Linked DNA regions of Homo sapiens. The protein of the gene in region 3 interacts with the protein of the main gene of each other region in a biochemical or structural test. Each region holds a gene or a part of one and is shown on either strand. Other genes may lie near its edges.

The links. The genes of interacting proteins can lie anywhere in the genome.
Region 1: the proteins of TLK2 (region 3) and IRF4 form a complex in vitro, tested with the Homo sapiens proteins (one study listed by BioGRID).
Region 2: of the proteins of TLK2 (region 3) and ASF1B, one has a biochemical effect on the other in vitro, tested with the Homo sapiens proteins (3 studies listed by BioGRID).

Annotation. Positions count from the first base shown.
Region 1 is NC_000006.12:387,591-394,751, reverse strand, and holds the start of IRF4 (interferon regulatory factor 4), read right to left. Parts: upstream 3,001-7,161; 5' UTR 2,943-3,000; intron 1,655-2,942; 5' UTR 1,600-1,654; coding exon 1,384-1,599; intron 1-1,383. UniProt on the Homo sapiens protein: Transcriptional activator. Binds to the interferon-stimulated response element (ISRE) of the MHC class I promoter. Binds the immunoglobulin lambda light chain enhancer, together with PU.1.
Region 2 is NC_000019.10:14,119,590-14,126,614, forward strand, and holds part of ASF1B (histone chaperone ASF1B), read right to left. Parts: intron 6,649-7,025; coding exon 6,533-6,648; intron 2,120-6,532; coding exon 1,943-2,119; intron 1,077-1,942; coding exon 870-1,076; 3' UTR 1-869. UniProt on the Homo sapiens protein: Histone chaperone that facilitates histone deposition and histone exchange and removal during nucleosome assembly and disassembly. Cooperates with chromatin assembly factor 1 (CAF-1) to promote replication-dependent chromatin assembly.
Region 3 is NC_000017.11:62,572,824-62,579,848, forward strand, and holds part of TLK2 (serine/threonine-protein kinase tousled-like 2), read left to right. Parts: intron 1-391; coding exon 392-544; intron 545-1,521; coding exon of another isoform or gene 1,522-1,587; intron 1,588-3,885; coding exon 3,886-3,952; intron 3,953-5,653; coding exon 5,654-5,751; intron 5,752-7,025. UniProt on the Homo sapiens protein: Serine/threonine-protein kinase involved in the process of chromatin assembly and probably also DNA replication, transcription, repair, and chromosome segregation. Phosphorylates the chromatin assembly factors ASF1A and ASF1B.

The DNA of each region.
Region 1 (7,161 bases), on a different chromosome or scaffold from region 3:
TCAGAGTCCTGCTCTGCTGCCCAGGCTAGAGTACAGTGGCACGATGATAGCTCACCGCAGCATCGAACTCCTGAGTTCTAGGGTCCTCCTATCTCAGCCTCTAGAGTAGCTGGGCCCTCGGCCTACAGGTGTTCACCACCATGCCTGGCTAATTTTTTTAATTATTATTTTTTGCAGAGGCAGGGTCTCACTATGTTGCATAGGCATCCTTCCACCTCATCTTCCCAAAGTGCTGGGATTACAGGTGTGAGCCACCATGCTAAACCCAAAATACAGATATTTTATAAGGAATCTTGAAATTGTATTTCTAAAAGAAAGAATGGCGCATAGGTCCTTCAGATTTACACCGTTGCTCAGAACGTAAACTGAAAGACCCCAGCTATGCTCTAGGAAAATGATTTTCCATCTTGGACCCTATCACTGCCAAGTTGAAGACACATTTTCTGGGTATTTATAACCGGTAGAGTGAGATGCGGAGGTTCCTTGAGGGGGCTCTACCCACCCAGTGTCTGAGTGAGCTTGCCTAGGACTAAGGACAGCTGTGGTGTGAGCTGTCACCCACAGGAGACATCTGGATGGCAGCACAGCTGAGGCACTCTGAGAGCAAATTGAGACCAAATTCCCGGAGGAAGTCCCCTTCCCCTGCTCTGCCCACAGGTGGGGGCTGGGCCCAGACACGTAGTTCTCTGGGTAAACTGCCTTAGGGGAGAACAATCGTAACAACGACACACGTGTGTGCACTCGCGCAAAGGGCAAGGGAGACAGCTCTAGACAGAGGCCCTGAGTTCCACTGCGATGGGGGAAAGAGAGAGACAGAGACACACAAAGAGAAAGACAGAGGTGGGAGTACCCGCAGAGAGCTAGCAGGAGCGAGAAGAGAGGCTGACCTCAGGAAAAACATGGAGAGAGAGAGACTCAGAGAGAAAAGCAGCGAAAAGAGAAACAGAGACGCGGTGAGAGACGAAAACAGCCGCCGGCACAGGCGCGGACGCACGGAGAGGGCGAGGGGGACCCACGGACGGAGGCGGCAGACGGGAGCCCGGAGGAAGGGCGGGAGGCTTGCGTGGAAACGAGAACGCACGGACGAACGCGCAAAACCCCTCAAGCCTTTGGCCGCCCTTCCCCGGGCCCGGCCGGGCCTTCAGCGGTTTCCCTGCAGCCTCCACGCGCCCAGGACCCGGCTCCCGGCCCCCGCGGTCCCGCTGAGAGCCGAGGCCTCCTTTCCTCCTCCTGCGGCTCCGGCGACGCCACCTGATGCCTCCGCCGCCCGCCCGTCCGCCCCGCGCGGTCCCCTGGGCTCGCCTCGGAGGCGGCGCCGGGGACCCCGGGCTCTGTCTCTGGGCCCTCCCCGGCGCGCCCCCGCCGGCTCCCGAGGCCGGAGACCTTGAAGAGCGCGGCGTCCTCCTCGCGGTTGTAGTCCTGCTTGCCCGCGTGCTTCCAGGGGATGCGGAAGATGCTCTTCTCCTCGTTCTCCCACACCAGCCCGGGGTACTTGCCGCTGTCGATCTGGTCGATCAGCCACTGGCGGAGCTTCCCGTTGCCGCAGCTCACCGCGCTCATGCCGAACTCTCCGCCTCGGCCGCCGCCCTCCAGGTTCATGCCCCGCGTGCCGTCCGCGCCCGCGCCCGGGGTCCTCCGCCCGCTCTGCTCTGCACTGCGGGGAGAAGAGCTGCCCTTCAGCCACGAGGCACCGCACTCCGGGCACCCCGCCCCGATCCCCTGCGCCAGTGACCACGAGGCCCCGGAGTCTTTGAGGCTGCGAAGCGCGCGCGTGCCGTGTCAGGGTCGTCCGGGCCCCCGGAAGAAGGCACCTTCGCGGCCGGCCCGGGCGCATCCCCTGGGCGGGCACAGCCGTCCGCCTTCCGAGCTCGGCCCCCGCGAAGGCTCCTACCCGCCTGCTCTCCTGTAACGCACCCGCAGCCCAAAGGCTCCCGACACGCGCCGCTCGTCTTGCACCCTCTCTCCCCACCCAGCCGCCACCCCTCCTGGCCCTCCTTCCGCACTCACTCGCAGCTCTCGCTTGCCTTCGCTCACTCCCAACCCGCTTCTCGCCCCTTCCCCGCGACTCTGTCAGTTTCCACTCCCCTGGCGGCCTCCACGCGCGGAGGACCTCGCCTGCGGCCGGGCGTTCCAGGGGCGCAGCCCCGGGTTCCTCCACCCTCCGCTTTCTCTGCTCGCATCCAGACCCTTCGCCCCGAATAGGACCCCTATCCCTGCCCAGCTAGCGCGCACTAAGTGGGCTCTGCAAACGACAAGTGGCGCAGACGCGGGGGCTGCAGCCCCAGTACGGGGGATTCCGCGCGCAGAGCGTCCGCCGGACCCCGGAGCAGGCCCGGGAGAGCGGAGGCGGGGAGGGCGCGGGAGAGGGCGACGACAGCTGCGGAGCCTGGGAGGCAGGGACCGCGCCAGGCCGGCTAGGCCACCGCACGCAAGGCTCGGAGCGACCCAAATGTGGAGCTCCTCCTCCTCCTGCGCCAGCGGGTGAGCACCGCGCCGGAGGCCGCCGTGAGCTTGGGCCCCTTAGGAACGAAGAGCAGGGGAAGGAGCCTCGGATTGGGGTCCACAGGGCCGGGCCTGTTTCTCGCAGGCAGTTGTGCCGTCTTGTGTGGGTGCCTTGGACGGCCCCGCCTCAGCCACTCCTGGGGCCCCGACAGTCCGGTTAGCTCATCCCGTCCAGCTTGTGGCGACCCCGTCGCAGGAGCGCGGAGGGCAGGCGGGGAGGCTCGGGCAGAGCCAAGGAGGCGGGCCTTGGAGCCCAAACCAGCGCCTCCGGCTCAGCGCAGATGGGGTGGGAGTCGGAGCTCCAGGACGGGGCGCGCTCCCTTCCCGCTCCGAAGCCGGGGTACCCTGCGCTGCCCTGGAGGTCGAACCTCTGGTTCGCGCTCCGGGTCCTCTCTGGTATCAGCCTCACACCCCTCCTCCTGCCCGACTCCAGCCCTTACCTCGCCCTGGACTCGGAGCTGAGGGCAGCGGTGGGTCCCAAGATCGAGCGGTGAAACTGAGAGTGCGAGGTGGGAAAGAGGAACTTTATAGAACTCTCTGGGGCGGGGCCTGGGGCGGGGCGGGGCGCCGAGGCCTGTGGGGGCCGGGGGTTGGACTGGGGAGAGGGACTTTGCAAGCCGAGAGCCGGGGCCGGCCGGGCGGGCGAGCCTCAGGGCCGGCGTGAAGGCTGGGGGCTGCCGCGGCCGGGGTGGGGTTCCCGCGCCCTTGGCGACCCTCCGCGCGCCGCGCCCGGAGAGCGCACCTCCAGCCGGGCGCGCGCCGCTTCGGGGACTGTCACTGGGGCCGTTTCCCGCGAAGGGCGAGGTGCGAAATGCGAATCTCGCCTTTGCGCCAGGACCTCAGGAGGCCAGTCAATCACTAAACTGCAGCGATGTGGCCAGGGCGGGAAATGGGGGGCGTGTAGTAGCGGGAATCTGGTGCGAAGGGGACTTCGCTTTGCAGAGCGTGTAACGGAAGACGGAGGAATGGTCCAAAGAGAACTGGAGGTGGAGGTTGCGGGAGCACCCTCGGCAAGGCCATCACCGGGAACCCTGCCTCTCCGCGGTGTTTAGAGAACATCGCACTCACTAAAAAGAAAATAGGAAATGGCCCAGCTCCCTTGAGCTATTAAGCTTGATTCAAATACTGTCTCTGCGTGTCTGACATGCTTACATCCTTTTGCATCTATTAGGCTGGTGAATTGAAGTGACTCAGACAATGCCCCGGCCCCGAAGTTTTAATTATCTTAGCATGAAAGAGATGGGGGCGGGGAGAGGCTCCCTAAGGATCCAAGTGCTTAATCACTTCCAGACTTCAGTTCACCTTAAAATGATGTCGTTTTAACCTCAACCTGGAGGAAAGCAGTTTACCAGTGGGGTATAAAAGCCCAAAATAGGCCAGGCGCTGTGGCTCAAGCCTGTAATCCCAGCACTTTGGGAGGCCGAGGCGGTGGATCGCCTGAGGTCAGGAGTTCGAGACCAGCCTGGCCAACACGGTGAAACCCCATCTCTACTAAAAATACAAAAATTAGCCGGGCGTGGCCCCAGCTACTTGAGAGGACGAGCCACGAGAATCGCTTGAACCCGGGAGGCTGAAGTTGCAGTGAGCCGAGGTGGGCGACAGAGCAAGACTCCATCTCAAAATAAATAAATAAAAGCCCAAAATAGGAATAATACTTAAGTGGACCAGGGATTTTACATACTTTTCCAAGATGTCCTTAATCGCAAAATTAACCCCCTGAGCTTTCACCCGTTGAGCTTTCGATCGTCTGAGATGCTGAGTATGTGCATTTACTTCGCATTTTCAGGTAAACCATCAGATCTCTGGTTTCTATATGATTTTAGACCACCACCACCGTAGGTCAACCTGCAACTTTTGAAAAGCTTTTGATTTCACTTATTTCTCAGTTTTTGTTTTAATCTTATATATTGGGTCAATGTCTCCTAACCAAAGAAGAATCTATGTTTAGGCTAGAGCAAAACAGGTAGTGAGGTATGGATAGGTATGCTTTTCCTAAAACCAACAGACGTTCTCAGAAATTAACAGGATGCCATTTTTTATTTCACCCAAGTAAGTTTTCCATTACCAAAGTCTATGTAATAAACAACAGGGTTTTGTTCACAAAAAGTTCTGGTCACAACCTGTTTTTCTTCCTTTCCTTTCACAGATTTATTCACTTGACAAATGTATTTTGAGCACCTGCTACTTGTCAGGAACCGTCCTAGGCACTTGGAACACATCAGTGAACAAAGCAAAGATCGTTGCCTTCTTGTTGCATTATATTTTAATCAGTGTTACCTTTCCCTCAAACGTTCACAAACATACCAGAGAGGAGTTTGCTGAGGACAAAAAATGGCAAATGAGAGCTTTTTGCACTTTCGTATACGTGTCCTCTGCACCGGGTTTAGTCATTTTCAACATACCCTCCCCTCACTCATCCACATCCTCTGCTTTTAGTTCAGAACAACAGTCGTTGTGTGAAACTCTGAGCCTTCACACCACTACCTTGTTTTTAAATGTAATTGCTAATCTTCAACGCCATCTTCTGGTTTACTCATTTGCCATATTGATCCACTAGAAGTTATTTTTCTTAATGATGATGTGAATACAAGTAATAAAACATTTTAATCACTAAAACTCCGGATGGCCTCATTACCCGTCAGGGAGGCAGTGAACAGGTAGCAGCTGGCAGTGGTGACCAAGGACTTTTATATCTTAGTCACGATTGAAACAAAAAACGGCAAAGGTTCTCAAATTGAAAAGCTTCCCCACCAAACTCCCACCCCCTCCACACACTGAGACTTGAGAAAATCGGTATTCCTTAGTAAAAGGCTGGATATTTATCAGTAAATGACACAACTTGTTGACAAGCAGAAACTAATAGGAAACCAGTTCATTGAATGTGTACCCAAAACAAAGGCTGACCGTGATATTCCACGAGGAAGTTACTTATTTAGTGAATTATCCGTATGTTGAGGTTGTAGTCGGCACACCATCTGAATGGAGCATTTCCATTTTCAATTTCACATTTATCGTAAAGAGTCTGCAAGAAAAGCTGAATTTACCTCAATTCAGTATTTTAAAAGCCAATCTTTAAAATTATACATTCACATGCAAGTAAAATATTTCAGAAAAACCCATCCTACACACACAAACACACACACTAGATTCTTAAAATCTTGGATAACACTATTTTCCCACTAATTCACTCTTTAAAGGGGGGGGCTACAATTGGCTAAAAACAATGCAACTGTATCCATAAAGAAATATAAAGGGCAATCATTTTTAATTACCAGAAAAAATCAGGAAAATACTGAAAGTGCTATTTTCATGTAATTTATATAGAATATATGTCTCTTCTAATCCTCTTTGGTTATATGTGTTTGCAAATCTAATTACTGGCCATGACACATTGCATGGCCAAAAGGTAGTATCATTGGGGATTAAATAAGTGCTTGAGTTTTTAAGGCTGTGAGGCCTTGGGAGAGCCATTTAACCAAAGTCCTACTTCTGGGTGTACAAGGAGGGTGGGGGTGTCCCTGCCTCCCAGCAGTGTTTGTTGTGATGATGAAATGATGCTTTGCGCAATGCCTGGCACATCATCATGTTCAACAAATCAGGGCTATTATCATTTACTACGCACTTCAATACTTAGGGGTATCTCACGGACTTTCACTCATTTGGCCCCCAAACCAAACCTGGCAGGCAAGGAAGGCGGGATTCAGCCCAAGTGTAGGGAGAACGAAAGAGATTGTGAGAGGTCCAGATGGCTGGCCCAAGGACACAGCTCTGAGGAACTATTTTTTCTCCTTGTACACAGGGATTGGCTGCATTTGGCATGACTATTTCAGAATCAGCCTCTGAGTGCAGGCTGTCATAGGAGGGGGAGTTTCATCTCTGGTCAGGTCAGTGTGGGTAAGAAAGTCTTCCCTGGCCTCATCCTCCGCCCCTGTGAAGTGGAGGCCGGCGGCAAGTGACCACTGAATCCTCGTTTAACCCTAAGTAGGTGTTTTTTTCTTTCTGTTGCAACTTAGGATCATTAATGGCTGCCTCGTGGCCTTTTTGGTTATGGTAAATTCAGAGTAAGGAAAGCTGCATTTTATTTTTAAGCCATGGATCTAACCATTGACCTTCACTTTATTCTTCTTCACAAGGCTAAATTCTCTTTGAGGAAATGAGAGAAACCTGGTGCTGCCTCTTAGCCACTCTTCTCGAATGTTTAATCCTCTGGAAAAAAAAAATCTAACCTTCTAAGCTACTTATACCAGAGAGGAGTTGGGATGGAACACTCTGGAAATGAGATTATATTATAAATGCTCTCACTGCACACTCAGTTTAAAATAATTGAATGTTATTTGAAAAGTGATAAATTCTTTGGTAATAGAATACAGAGCATAAACCTGGATTTTTTCAAGTAGAGCTGTACACATTTTCCTAATTTAATTAGCAGAATGCCCTGAGTGCCTTCAATGAGAAAATTTGCAGAGCTTCGACAGTAAGCATTCCCAGGGCACAGGGCGTTCAGGACCAGCTTGTGATCTCTTTGAGGGCAGAGTTAGTAAGCGGGGCTTTTTCCTACATGCAGAGAAGAACCCGCTTTCAGGCTTGTAGGAAATGAGACTTGTGATTGTAATCGATGACGTAATGAGAAGCCAAGGATACGAGGTGATGTCTCCTTTC
Region 2 (7,025 bases), on a different chromosome or scaffold from region 3:
ACAACAGCATCCACATGGCAGCAAGGGGACCAGGGCACAGAGAGGGGGAGCGGGCTGGGGAGGGACAGTTTTCAGGGTCCCAGTTGCTTCCCTGGCTTGAAATCACCCTGGTCCTAGCAGAGGACAGGTTAAGGCTGCCAGAGGCAGAGGGTCCCTGACCCTGGCCCGGAGACAGACTGCCCAGGCAGGCCCTCTGATACCATCTTCCAACCATGGCAGCCTCCAGGAAAAGCCAGATCCATTTAGGAGATAACAGGAAGGTGGCTGTGATTGACAGGAAAGGCAACATGGTTCCTCAGCATCCTGCTGATCACACCTCTGGGAGGGGCTGCTGGATTGAAGAGGACCTAAGAATCTTCCTGGGAGCAGGACAGAAATGGGATCTAAGTCTACCTACTAACTAACATTCCCGCCTGTGACACCAGAAAGCTGGAGTGGGTCTGCTCAGATGTACAGGAAGAGAAAGGAATGACAAAGCCTTTGGCTCAGCAGGACTGGAGCCTTGACAGGCACTGACCAAGAAAGCCTCTAGGTGGGCCAGGGAGGTCTGTGGGAAAGCTTTGGATCAATGGTACTCAAGGGTGCACAGTGGCACAGTGGCCTTAGTTAGAATTTATGAAGACGAAAAGAACACAAGTCAGAATTTAGAACTGAAGTACCTGCTTCTTATAGGCCTGTAGAGGAAAAGCGAGATCATCCTTCTGGCCAGGACTAGGGGAGACCCAAGGCCTGTTCTTTCCTAGGGGCTGAGTTTGACAGACCTGGATTGCAGCTGATGGCCCCCAAAGTCCTCTAGATGGGCCCTGCAGGACTCGCTGGGAGGCCTGGTTGCCCCTCCCGGCGTGCTGGGACACTCTGGGTTCCTGCAGTTAGATGCAGTCCATGGAGTTCTCAGGGAGGAGGCCAGGGATGCAGCCAGGGAGCCCCAAGCCCTTGATAGGAGTGCAGTTGAGTGGGAGGCCGCAGCCCAGGGAGGGGTCCTGGGTCTCTATGGCCTCCAGCCTGTCCATGTTGTTGTCCCAGTTGATATGGAAGCGGGTCACCCGGGGGTTCGAGGCCAAGATGTTCCGCTGGAGCTGGGGCAGGAAGAGGAACGTCAACCCTTGTAGGTACGCCCTCTCCTTGGTCCCATAGAGCCAGGACACCCCCAATCACCCATCTCAAGCCCAGCAAGAGCAACCTACATATGGAACTCCAGAAAACACCTGTGGCCAGGACCTTATTTATTTATTTATTTATTTATTTTTTGAGACGGAGTTTTGCTTTTGTTGCCCAGGCTGGAGTGCAATGCTGTGATCTCGTCTCACTGCAACCTCTGCCTTCCGGGTTCAAGCGATTCTCTTGCCTCAGCCTCCTGTGTAGCTGGGACTACAGGTGCAAGGCACCATACCTGGCTCATTTTCGTATTTTTAGTAGAGACGGGCTTTCACCATGTTGGCCAGGCTGGTCTCAAACTCCTGACCTCAGGTGATCCTACAGCCTCGGCCTCCCAAAGTGCTGGGATTACAACGCGTGAGCCACTGTGCCTGGCCCAGGACTTTTTTTTTTTAAGGGACAGTCTCACTCTGTTGGTCAGGCTGGAATGCAGTGGCACGATCTGAGCTCACTGCAGCCTCAAACTCCTGGGCTCAAGCGATCCTCCCACCTCAGCCTCCAGAGTAGAGCACACCACCCATGTCTGGCTCATTTTTTTTTTTTTTTTTTTTTGCGGGGGTTAGGGACAGGGTCTCACTATGTTGCCCAGGCTGGCCTAATCTTAATTCTCTAAGACATGCCTTTGAGAGACAAAGGTCTTTTTCTCCTCTTCTAACACAGTACTGTAAGAACTGAATATTACTTGAAAACCTTAAGAAGTGACCTTGACTCTCAATTTGAATGGCTGAACTCCCCCCAAGTATAAAGAACGGCCTTGTGGGAAGCAGGAAGTGGAAACAGGCCCCACCTGGGAGAAATCTGGCTTCATGGGCGGGTTCTCACGCAGCTCAGGGTTGAGGTACTCGTTGTTGACGTAGTAGCCCACTCGGATGAACTCCTGTCCATGGTAGGTGCAGGTGATGAGGACCACAGTCACACCCACGGCATCAGTCTCTGGGATGAGGGATGGGTTGGGGGCGTCGGCCTAGGGGAGACACATCCTAGGCCTTAGCAGTGCCACAGCCATGCCTCGATGTCATTAGTACAAAGATTCCCAAGCATCATGTATTTACTGAGCAAAAAGTATGCTCTCTGCCCTCAGTTTTCTTTTTTTTACTTCTGCCTCTCGGGTTCAAACAATTCTGCCTCAGCATCCCAGGCAGCTGGGACTACAGGCACACACCACCACACCCGGCTAACTTTTTTTTTTTTTTGGTATTTTTTTTTAATGGAGTTTTGCTCTGTTGCCCAGGCTGAAGTGCAATGGTGCGATCTCGGCTCACTGCAACCTCCGCCTCACGGGTTCAAGCGATTCTCCTGCCTCAGCCTCCCGAGTAGCTGGGATTACAGGTGCCCACCACCATGCCCGGCTAATTTTTGTATTTTTAGTAGAGATGGGGTTTCGCCATGTTGGCCAGGCTGGTCTCGAACTCCTGACCTCAGGTGATCCACCCGTCTTGGACTCCTAAAGTGTTGGGATTACAGGTGTGAGCCACTGCGCCCAGCCTTTTTTTTGTATTTTTAGTACAGACGGGATTTCACCATGTTGGCCAGGCTGGTCTTAAACTCCTGACTTCAGGTGATCTGCCCACCTCGGCCTCCCAAAGTGTTGGGATTACAGGTGTGAGCCATTGCGCCTGGACTTTTTTTTTTTTTACACAGGGTCTGGCCTCCCTCTGTTACCCAGGCTGGAGTGCAATGGCGCCATCATGGCTCACTGCATCCTTGAACTCCTGGGCTCAAGCAATCCTCCTGCTTCAGCCTCCCAAATAGCTGGGACAACGGTGTGTGCCAACATGTCTAGCCAATTATTTTTTGTAGAGACAGGGTTTCTCCATGTTGCCCAGGCTGGTCTCAAACTCCTGGGCTCAAGCGATCCTCTCACCTCAGCCTCCCAAAGGGCTGGGATTACAGGTGTGAGTCACTGTGCCCAGCCAGGAGTTGTCAACTGATGGAAACACAGAATCAATCCCACAAATGACTACAAAACGTTGACTGTGGCAGGGAGAGGTGCGTGGTACTCTGGAGGAGTGTGGTGAGCCGGGGGACAGTGGCATGAAGCTGAACAGGTGAGGCAGGTGGTATCAGGCCACCCGGGGGCCAGCTAAGGGATTGGGAAAGGGCAAGAGAGTAAGCAGGAGGTTAAGTGCCACATCACTCTTGTGATCTGAAAAGAAGCCTCTGGCAAAGTGTGGAGCCGTGACAGGAGACTGTAGTGGAGCAGAAGGCTTACACCAGTCATCCTGGAGAGGCAGTGGACTTGGCTTAGACCAGGCAGTAAAGAACAGATTCAGGGTGTACTACTGCAAACAAGACCAGCCACGTAATTGGTGCAAAATAAAACCAATGCAAAATGAAAACACCACGCCCCTCCAGAAAAGCTATTAGGTTTCAGACGGTGACAGCAGAGTATCGCACCAAGTGTGGGGTCCTGTGCAGCTGCCTGGGTTGCACACCCAGGAGGCCAGTCCTGACTGTTGAGTAGATAGGGCCTGTCAGTGGATTTAGTAGTGGTGGCTGAAGGGGTTAGATAGGATGTGGTAGCTTGGATTAGGGCGGTAACAGCAGTGATGGAGGTAAGGGAGTGTATCCGAGCAGAGGATCCTGAAAAATCACCTGGAGAACTCAGAATCTCCATTTGTTTTTTCTTTCTTCTTTTTTTTTTTTTTTTTTTTTGAGATGGAGTCTCACTGTCACCCAGGCTGGAGTGCAGTGGCGTGATCTCGGCTCACTGCAAGCTCCGCCTCCCAGGTTCACGCCATTCTCCTGCCTCAGCCTCCTGAGTAGCTGAGACTACAGGTGCCCGCCACCAGGCCTGGCTAATTTCTTGTATTTTTTAGTAGAGATGGGGCTTCACCATGTTAGCCAAGATGGTCTCAATCTCCTGACCTTGTGATCCGCCCACCTTGGCCTTCCAAAGTGCTGGGATTACAGGCGTGAGCCACTGCACCGGCCTTCTTTTTTTAAAGAGATAGCTTTTCCCTCTGTCATCCAGACTGGAGTGCAGTGGTGCAATCACAGATCACTGTAAACTCCTGGAACTCCTGGGCTCAAGCGAGCCTATTTTTTTTTTTTTTTTTTTTTAGAGACAGGGTCTCACTCTGTTGCCCAGGCTCGAGTGCAGTGGCGCAATCTCAGCTCACTGTAACTTCCGCCCCCTGGATTCAAATAATTCTCGTGCCTCAGCCTCCCGAGTAGCTAGGATAACAAATGTGCACCACCACATCCAGCTAATTTTTGTATTTTTTAGTAGAGACAGGGTTTCACCATGTTGGCCAGGCTAGTCTTTAACTCCTGACCCCAAGTGATCTGCCTGCCCCAGCCTCCCAAAGTGTTGAGATTACAGGTGTGAGCCATGGCACCTGGCCTCAAGTGAGTCTTCTGCTTCAGCCTCCCTAGTAGCTGGCACTACAGGCCTGCATCACTATGCCTGGTTAATGTTTTTTTTGTAGAGACAGGTCTCGCTGTCACCCAGAATGCAGTGCAGAGGTGCAATCATAGCTCGCTGTAGCCTCAAACTCTCAGGCTCAAGCAAGCCTCCTGCTTCAGCCTCCCAAGTAGCTGGGACGACAGGTGCAAGCCACCACACCCGGCTAATTTTTCTATTTTTTGTAGAGATGGGGGTCTCGCTATGTGGCCCAGGCTAGTCTGGAACTCCTGGCCTTAAGCAGTCCTCCCGCCTCTGCCTCCCAAAGTGCTGGAAGCCACCACACCCGGCCAGAATCTACATTTGACAACCCAGGTGGGGTGCTGCATGAGAGCCATTTAGGAGTTACAGTCCATCCTCATTATTCATGGGTTCCATATGTGCAAGTTCACCTACCTGCTAAGTTTATTTGTAACCCCAAGATGAACACCTGCTTGCTTTCACAGTCACTTGCAGACATGCACAGAGCAGGGAAAAACTGGAGTTACCTACCATGCCTGTTCCCACCTAGAGTTACCTACCACGCCTGTTCCCACCTGAGGTCAAACAAGGCAACACTCTGTCTTCTGGTCTCAGCTCTCACTGTGAATGAGCGTCCTTTCCTCAGCCTACTTAGTGCTTTTTTCCATGTTTTGTGCTTTTTGTTGGTGAGTTTGCTGTCTATGATGGCACCCAACGGTAGTGCTGAAGTGCAGTGTAGGATACAAGAAAGGCTTTATGGAAAATATGCGTATTAGAGAAGTTTCATTCAGGAGAGTTATAGTGCTGTTGGCTGTGAATTCAACATAAATGAACCACTGTATATATTAAATAAGGTATCTTTCCTTTTTTTCTGAGACAGAGTATCGCTGTATCACCCAGGCTAGAGTGCACTGGTGCGATCTCAGCTCACTGCAATCTCCATCTCCCAGGTTCAAGCGATTCTCCCGCCGCAGCCTCCCGAGTAGCTGGGATTACAGGCATGCGCCACCACACCTGGCTGATTTTTGTATTTTTAGTAGAGACGGGGTTTCATCACATTGGCCAGGCTGGTCTTGAACTCCTGACCTCAGGCGATCCACCCACCTCAGCCTCCCAAAGTGCTGGGATTACAGGTTTGAGCCATCATAGCCGTCCTGGTGTCTTTTCAACATAAACACACATACAAGTTTACGTATTAACCAGCTGACGAAAATGTGACTTCCAAGAATCTAACCCTGTATTTCCCCTGGGGCAATGGTTCAGTATTCACTAATTCAGTGTTCGCGGCAACTTTATAGAACGTAACTCTTGTAAATAATGGGAATTGCCTGTAAATCAGTGGCAGCTTTGACACAGAGGTGGGGGAAGGGAGGGCCTGACGGCCTCTGAGAGGTCAGATAGTTCCTGACAGTAGAACTAGGATTTGAACCTGAACTTTTAAATTGTTTTAATTGATTGATTGAGACTGGGTCTTACTGTTGCCCAGGCTGGAGTGCAGTGGTGTGGTCTTGGCTCATTGTAGCTTCCATCTCCCAGGCTCAAGTGATCCTCCCATTTCAGCCTCCCAAGTATCTGAGACTACAGGCGCACACCACCATGCTCTGCTGATTTTTACATTTTTTGTAGAGATGCGGTCTCACTATATTGCCCCAGCTGGTCTCAAACTCCTGGCCTCAAGCAATCCTCCCACCTCGGCCTCCCAAAGTGCTGGGATTACAGGTGTGAGCAACTGTGCCCGGCCTCTATGTTTTTAATACTTGTTTTTTTCTTTTTTAGAGACAGGGTCTCACTGTGTTGCCTAGGCTGGAGTGCAGTGGCTCACTGCAGCCTCAGACTCCCGGGCTCAAGCAATCCTCTCACCTCAGTCCCTGGAGTAGCTGGGTCTATAGGCGTGAGCCCGTGCCCAGCTGAACTTGAACTTTTGATTCCTGAAGCACTCTGTGGGATTTCAGGTAAAAGAGGATGTTTCTAGGAATCAAGGGCTAAGGCCTAAGGCCTCATCTTTCTTACCTGAAAGACAAACATGTGTCTCCCTGCTGGCACAGGGCCCACCAGCACCGAGTCTAGGATCTGATCAAATTCCTCACTCTCAGCCGAGCCAACATAAATGATCTTCCACTCCAGGTCTGCAAAGATATAGGAGGGTTAACTAATTGAAATAGCTCAACAGCAAGAAGGCAGGGATAGGCTCTTGTATTTTTTTTTTTTTTTGAGATGGAGTCTCGTTCTGTCACACAGGTTAGAATACAGTGATGCGATCTCAGCTCACTGCAACTTCCGCCTCCCAGGTTCCAGTGATTCTCATACCTCAGCCTCCCGAGTGGCTGGGATTATAGGTGCCCGCTGCCACGCCTAGCTAATTTTTTTTTTCTTTTTTGAGATGGAGTTTCACTCTTGTCACCCAGGTTGGAGTACAATGGTGTGATCTTGGCTCACTGCAATCTCTGCCTCCCAGGTTCAAGCGATTCTCCTGTCTCAGCCTACTGAGTAGCTGGAATTACAG
Region 3 (7,025 bases):
ATAGAACTTGGAACTTTTTACAACTTTTAAAATACGATTTACTTTTAATGGGTTCAGATCAGAGAATTGTTTCCTTAGCTGTTAAAAAGGAATCAGAAAATTGTTCCTTCTGAGTCAGAAAATAAGGTCACAATAGAAATTTGATATGTTCCTTCCTGTCCACTCTGAAAATAGTAATAACTAGTGTCTTAAAGCACAGACTCATTCCCAGAAAACATCTATCACCAATTATTTGGCCCTTCCAATCTGAAGTTAAAATCAAATCTCTACTTGACTTAAAGGGGCTTATTTTTTCTGAAATTGGATACACAAGTGACAAATTGTGTGTGTTCCATAGCTGTGGTAAAACTTTTGACTTTCTTTCTTTGTACAACGTCTTTTATATCTCTAGGCAACAGGAAAGGATAAATTCACAGAGGGAAGAGATAGAAAGACAACGGAAAATGTTAGCAAAGCGGAAACCTCCTGCCATGGGTCAGGCCCCTCCTGCAACCAATGAGCAGAAACAGCGGAAAAGCAAGACCAATGGAGCTGAAAATGAAACGTATGTTCTTTATTGACGTGAACGCTGAGACACCACACCCTGCCCCCAAATACAAATGTTGATTGTCACCGGCAATAGTTTTAAATTCTTGAGGTCACTCAGGTTTAAACCTTCTTTTCAGTTACATTAATGGATTTGCTCAACTCATATAAATGCCATATAAAATTAATTGATTTTCTTAAACCTGCTCTTTCTTTAGGGCATTTTGAATGAGAGGGAAAAGTAATGTCACTTGACATCATGACTTTTGGCCACTCCTGGTTAACAAATAAGATGTCATTGTACTGAAATGATATTATTGCTTACATGTGGCTGCAGGGTGTGGTACACTAGTATCATCTTATGGGAGTTACCTGGCTGTTATTTCAGACTGAAGAATGCTCTTTACTGGTCAAAAGAGCACTTAGTTAATAGTCACAAACTTAGGATAAGCCCCCCAGAAAGCTGTTATGTTAGAAAAGGACATTGTCCCAATAAGCCACAACTTGATCTCATCAGAATTGTTTCCTGTTCTGGGAATCTAAGGAAAACACCAGTATCTTAAACTGCAGTACAGTCATCTTTTTCTCTGTCACTCAACAATATTTACATAGCTACCATATATAGGAGGAGTAGAAAATTCTAAGCACAAATGCCTGCCTTCTCCATTCTTCTCTTCCTTTCTGTTTAACTGAAAGTAAGTTTCAAGTCCAAAGATAGCTGCAGATAAAAGATATATAACTTATCAACTAATATGTCATTTGCTTTATGTTTTCATATTAGTTCACAAAAACAACACATAATCCACTTCAGGTATAATAATACTTGTATTATATTATTGTTAAAAGTCTGTGGCATCCTAGAAGTGCATCTTCTTTCATTCTAGTGAGAAAGATGGCTTAACACCAATCCTCACCCCATACATATCTGATGTTTTGGGAAGTCTCTTCCTTGATGTTCGTTTAGTAAGTTTATGTTAAATGCTTATTTTATGCTAGGCCCTCTTCTGGGAATACAGAGCTAAAGGATACAGCCCCAGCCTTAGGAGCCCACAGTTTACTTAGGTGAGATGAACAGACGAATAAACTAATAATTACATTAAGTATAGCGATAAAAATGTGCATAATGAACTTGGAAAACATCTTCATTCATATAACTCCAAATTTTGTTGTTGTTGTTTTTTTTTTTTGAGACGAAGTCTCACTCCGTCGCCCAGGCCAGAGTGCAGTGGTGCTATCTCGGCTCACTGAAACCTGTCTTCTGGGTTCAAGCGTTTCTCCTGCCTCAGCCTCCTGAGTAGCTGGGACTACAGGCGTGCACCACCATGCCCAGCTAGTTTTTGTATTTTTAGTAGAGATGGAGTTTCTCCATGTTGGCCAGGCTGGTCTTGAACTCCTGACCTCAAATGATCCACCCTCCTCGGCCTCCCAAAGTGCTGGGATTACAGGTGCGAGCTACTGCACCCAGCCCAAATGTTACAAAACTAGAGTCTTGTTTTCCCTTGATTTTAAAGACTAGTCAAGTGCAATAATGAGAATGAGAAGAGGGGAAGAGTATTGAGTCTTAAATATAAAGTATTTTCCTTTCAGCAAGTCCAAGTAGGGGCTCAAATTTGAAAGATTGTCCAGGCTAATTAATCTGACCAATGTTTTCTTTCATGACTCCTGTGTGTATTTTGTGAAGGGACTTTCCCTCTAGTATTATTTGAAAATTATTTAATGCTAATGCACAAAACCATTGGCTTAGGAGTGATAAAGAAAGCATAGGTTGTTTCTTTGCCACAGAAGAATAATTAGAATGCAATCTAGGCTAGTAATGTGTAAGCAATTGCTATCTGGTGTCCTGTGTAAAATCCAATCTGGAAGACTTTCAGTCCAGTTTTTAATTAGAGTATCTGTGACTTGGCTCTTACTTTGACCAGAAGCCAGAAGTAGGCCTCTGGGGTCTTGGAGTGAGCCATATTATCCTTTCTTGGCCCCGAACCTGTTTCAGACAGAGAATTCTTAGCCATCATTTTTAATTTTTCTGTTTTTCGCTGGTGTGGAATGGAGTAATAGATACAGGTATTTCTGCATCTGTAAAGAGATAGCCCTAGTGGGTGAGTTTCTTCTTCTTTCTATTTTTTCTTGAGTTAGACCTCAAAGGCTCTGTTCTGGTTGATAGGATAGATATTTCCCCTTTCTTCTGCTATTTAGAATATATCTAAACAGTGATATCTAAAAATATTAAATATCTATATGCTTCTAGAATGCGAAGAAGGTAGAGATGGAAGAAAAAATAATTCTCACTTGTTCATCTTTTTTTCTTTTATTTTCTTTCTTTCTGTCTTTCTCTCTCTCTCTCTTTCTTTTCTTTTCTTTTCTTTCTTGAGACAGAGCCTTGCTCTGTTGCTTGGGCTGGAGTGCAGTGACATGATTATAGCTCACTATAGCCTCAACCTTCTGGGCTCAAGCAATCCTTCCATCTCAGCCTCCTGAGTAGCTGGGACTACAGGCATGTGCCACCATGCCCAGCTTCTTTCTTCTTTTTTTCACAGAGACAGAGTGTTGCTTTGTTGCCCAGGCTGGTCTCAAACTCCTGGCTCCAAGTCCTTCCCGCTCAGCTTCCCAGAGTACTGGGATTACAGTGAGCCACCAAGCCTGGCCACTTGTTCATTCTTGAGATGTAAGGATGCTGTTGGAGTAGTTGGAACATGAAACACATGACTACCCATCAAGTCAGCCCTTTGAGAGTTGATTTAAATAGCATTTTCAATATTCTTTATATGTTGTCATTTAATAGTCACTCTTTCTTAGATAGGTATTATCACTTGCTGCATTTCAGGAAACTGAGTTAAAGAGGTTAAATTTGCTTGCGCAAGGTCACATGGCCAGTAGCTTAGTAGTGCTTTGAACCCTAGTCCTCAGACTCCAAATCCTAGACTCTAATTTGCTGCTATATCTTTCTCTTTGTTATTACAGTATCAAGGTTTAAGTATTAACAAGAATAATCAAATCCATTGGCTTATTGTTTTGCCCTCTAAAAAATTTTTAGAGAATTTTTGGCTGTCTCTGAATGAGTTTTTATCTTAGTAATATATGGCACAAAACTCATTTCAAAAATAATATAAAAATATGGCTCACTTTTTTTTCTTTTTTATGTTTTGCAAATTAGACTTCTGGCTTTGAAGTTCTTCCCTCACATCACATCTGGTAAATCACAGAAGTTTTCTCTTGTCAGAGGACTACAAGATAACCCATCTTTCAGTCATTTTAACTGAGACTGAAACTGAATATGTCTTATAGTATATTTGAGCATTTCTCTTTAAACAGGCAAACTATGATTTCTAGTAGTTTACTGAAACTTTTACCACTGTTTTTCAGGTTAACGTTAGCAGAATACCATGAACAAGAAGAAATCTTCAAACTCAGATTAGGTCATCTTAAAAAGGTAAGTATAATGAGAAAATCTCCCTGGAGAAATGTGATACCTAGTTTAAATTTGGGGTTGAAGCTATTTGGTCATTTGGGTGAATGTAATAGTAGCTGCACATAGCAGCAGAAAGCTTCAGTGACTGCTTTCACTGTCATGTCTTGTAGCCTAATGGTAGAACTCATATTTTTCCATTTTCTTTCTTCTTCTTTTTTTTTTTTTTGAGTTGGAGTCTCACTGTGTCTCCCAGGCTGGAGTGCAGTGGCACGATCTTGGCTCACTGCAACCTCCACCTCCCGGGCTCAAGCGATTCTCGTGTCTCAGCCTCCTGACTAGCTGGGATTACAGGCACGTGCCACCATACCCAGCTAATTTTTGTATTTTTAGTAGAGACGGGGGTCTCACCATTAGGCTGGTCTCGAACTCCTGACCTCAAGTAATCCTCCTGCCTCGGCCTCCCAAAGTGCTGGGATTACGGGTTACAGGTGTGAGCCACCATGCCTGGCCTATCTTTGCATTTTCAAGTCAATTCCAGCAACCCAATGACAGTGTTTTTCCCCCTAGTGATCTATCAGCAGATAATTCTGTACACATCATAAGGCTTCCCAAGTGGTTATCCTTGGAGTAAAATTTAAATATATAACAAGAGCAGATGGTTTTGAAATTGATGTGAAGACTCCTGTCATATTTCAAATCACATAGCAGCTCTTATTCCTTGCCTAAACTAGCTAAAAAGAGAAAGTGTTATGTGAACCTTATTCAAATACAAAGGCACATAACATAGAATTTGTTATTGATGATGTTCACTGAGATATCTTAGATGTGGATTACTCAGCTCTTAAAATTCAGAAGCCCATACATTGGTCGATGCTCTTTATAGGTGATAATGGTCAGTAAAGATTTACTAAACTGCTTTTGGTATGTGTGCTTTTGTTTTTTATTTCACATATTAGTTTTCATGCTGTTTTCCCACTGGGTTCTCAGAGCTTGTTAAATAAGTAGAACTTGCTGGGGATGGTGGCTCACACCTGTAATGCCAGCACTTTGGGAGGCTGTGGTGGGTGGATCACCTGAGGTCAGGAGTTCAAGACCAGCCTGCCCAGCATGGTGAAACCCCGACTCTACTAAAAATACAAAAAATTAGCTGGGCGTGGTGGCATGTACCTGTAATCCCAGCTACTCGGGAGGCTGAGGCAGGAGAATCACTTGGACCTGGGAGGCGGAGGTTGCAGTGAACCGAGATCGTGCCATTGCACTCCAGCCTGGGTGACAACAGCGAAACTCCATCTTAAAAAATAAAAATAAGTAGAACTTAAGTCACCAAGTGTAATCCATACTTAAAGATGAGAACCGAACCAGATAGATAACCTGATTTTTGTAAAAAATGTTTCCATGTCTAAATGTATATGCACAAAACATTCCTGAAAACTTATGTAAGAAACTTAATAGTGGTTATTACATCTCAGGAGTGGGCATGGAGAGGAGGGAGGAGGAGGGTAGGGAACTTTTACTTTTCTTACTGAACTCCTCTGTATGGTTTGAATTTTATTATTTTCTATGGGCTCATTTTTATGATTAAAATTCTTAAAGAAATCTTTCAATGCAAAGCACCTTCCTTTAGCCTTTCATAAGATAAATGTCTGCTATTGTTTTTGAAATAAGATCCCGAAAAGGTAAAGTTCCCCCTATTTTGTGCTATTTCTTTCCTTTTCGCTTTAGGAGGAAGCAGAGATCCAGGCAGAGCTGGAGAGACTAGAAAGGGTTAGAAATCTACATATCAGGGAACTAAAAAGGATACATAATGAAGATAATTCACAGTAAGCTACTTCAGGGCATATTGGGTTGGAGATTGCTAAGCATTTTATGATATGAATTGAATGGTCTAGAATAATGTGTTTGCTTAATGTAAGTTACATAAATGATTCCATGGTGTATTTAGCTCTTTTGTAGCATCTAATACAATTTTGTGAACAAAATTATGATTTGCCTTGGTTTAAATATACAATTGTATTAAATTTATATATTAAGTATATATGTGTATACATATAGCATTTTTACATGAATAAAGATTACTAAAACAATATGGCTTTGTAATTGTAAATGGTTGAGATATGTTGCATATTCAGATTTTCCTACAGAGCCTTAAGAAAGGGAAGATGGGTCACAGTGTGGTGTTGTGGAAAGAGTATTGGGTTGAGATGACACTCGGTTTCTGAATGACCTTTAAGGGCTATTCAGGTGTTGAGATTTTAAGTAAGACTCTTAAGTTCAGTACATTAATTGTAGATGAATTGAAACTGGGAAAAGTAGGTTGAAAGTAGAAAGGGGTTTTTATAAGTAATCTGTTTTTTCCCCATATTTTTTGGACCCTGAAACATTTTTTCATAAAGCCATAGCTTGTATATTTTTGTTTGGCTTATATGAGCTTTGGACCTGTCTTTCTGTTAAAGTGGCAGACAACAGCAGGTACCACTTCCTGAGAGCTCTCTGTGTATCAGGCTTGGTCCTAAGTGCCCTTAGTGCTCTCATTTAATCCGCAGGATAACCCAGTCATCTTTAATACATTAATCAGAAAACAAGCTTAGAGAAATTAAATTAACTTGCCCAGGGACCCATAAATAATGTGACCAAAGAGTTCAACTTGGATCTTTTTCATCTAAACCACCATGCAGTAATGTCTCTCCAGATAGGCATCCTACTTTCTTAAAATCCATGTAAAGTAATTTCAGAATTAATAGTGAGATTGTTTAAGATCAGGAACTAGGTAAAAATATTTTTAAATTTGTTTTTGCCAGAACTTGTCATTTCTTTATCATATTATTAAGAAAATACCCAAGGTAGAGTCTAATATGGGGAACACAGTTATATCTGTCTTAAAGAGAGAATAATGAATGCACATAGAACATGTGACTCACTTTAAAATCAAATCTGTTTTTAAGGAAATAGCAAGTGTCTTGGAATTTTACTGTATGTAGTTTTGAAATGGTGGGAACATGTGGCCCTTGAATAGTTTGGAGGAGCCAAATAGCACAATCTAAAAATCTCTAATCTACCCTCCCTCATTGTATAGCAGGGCAGAAAAAAGGAGGAG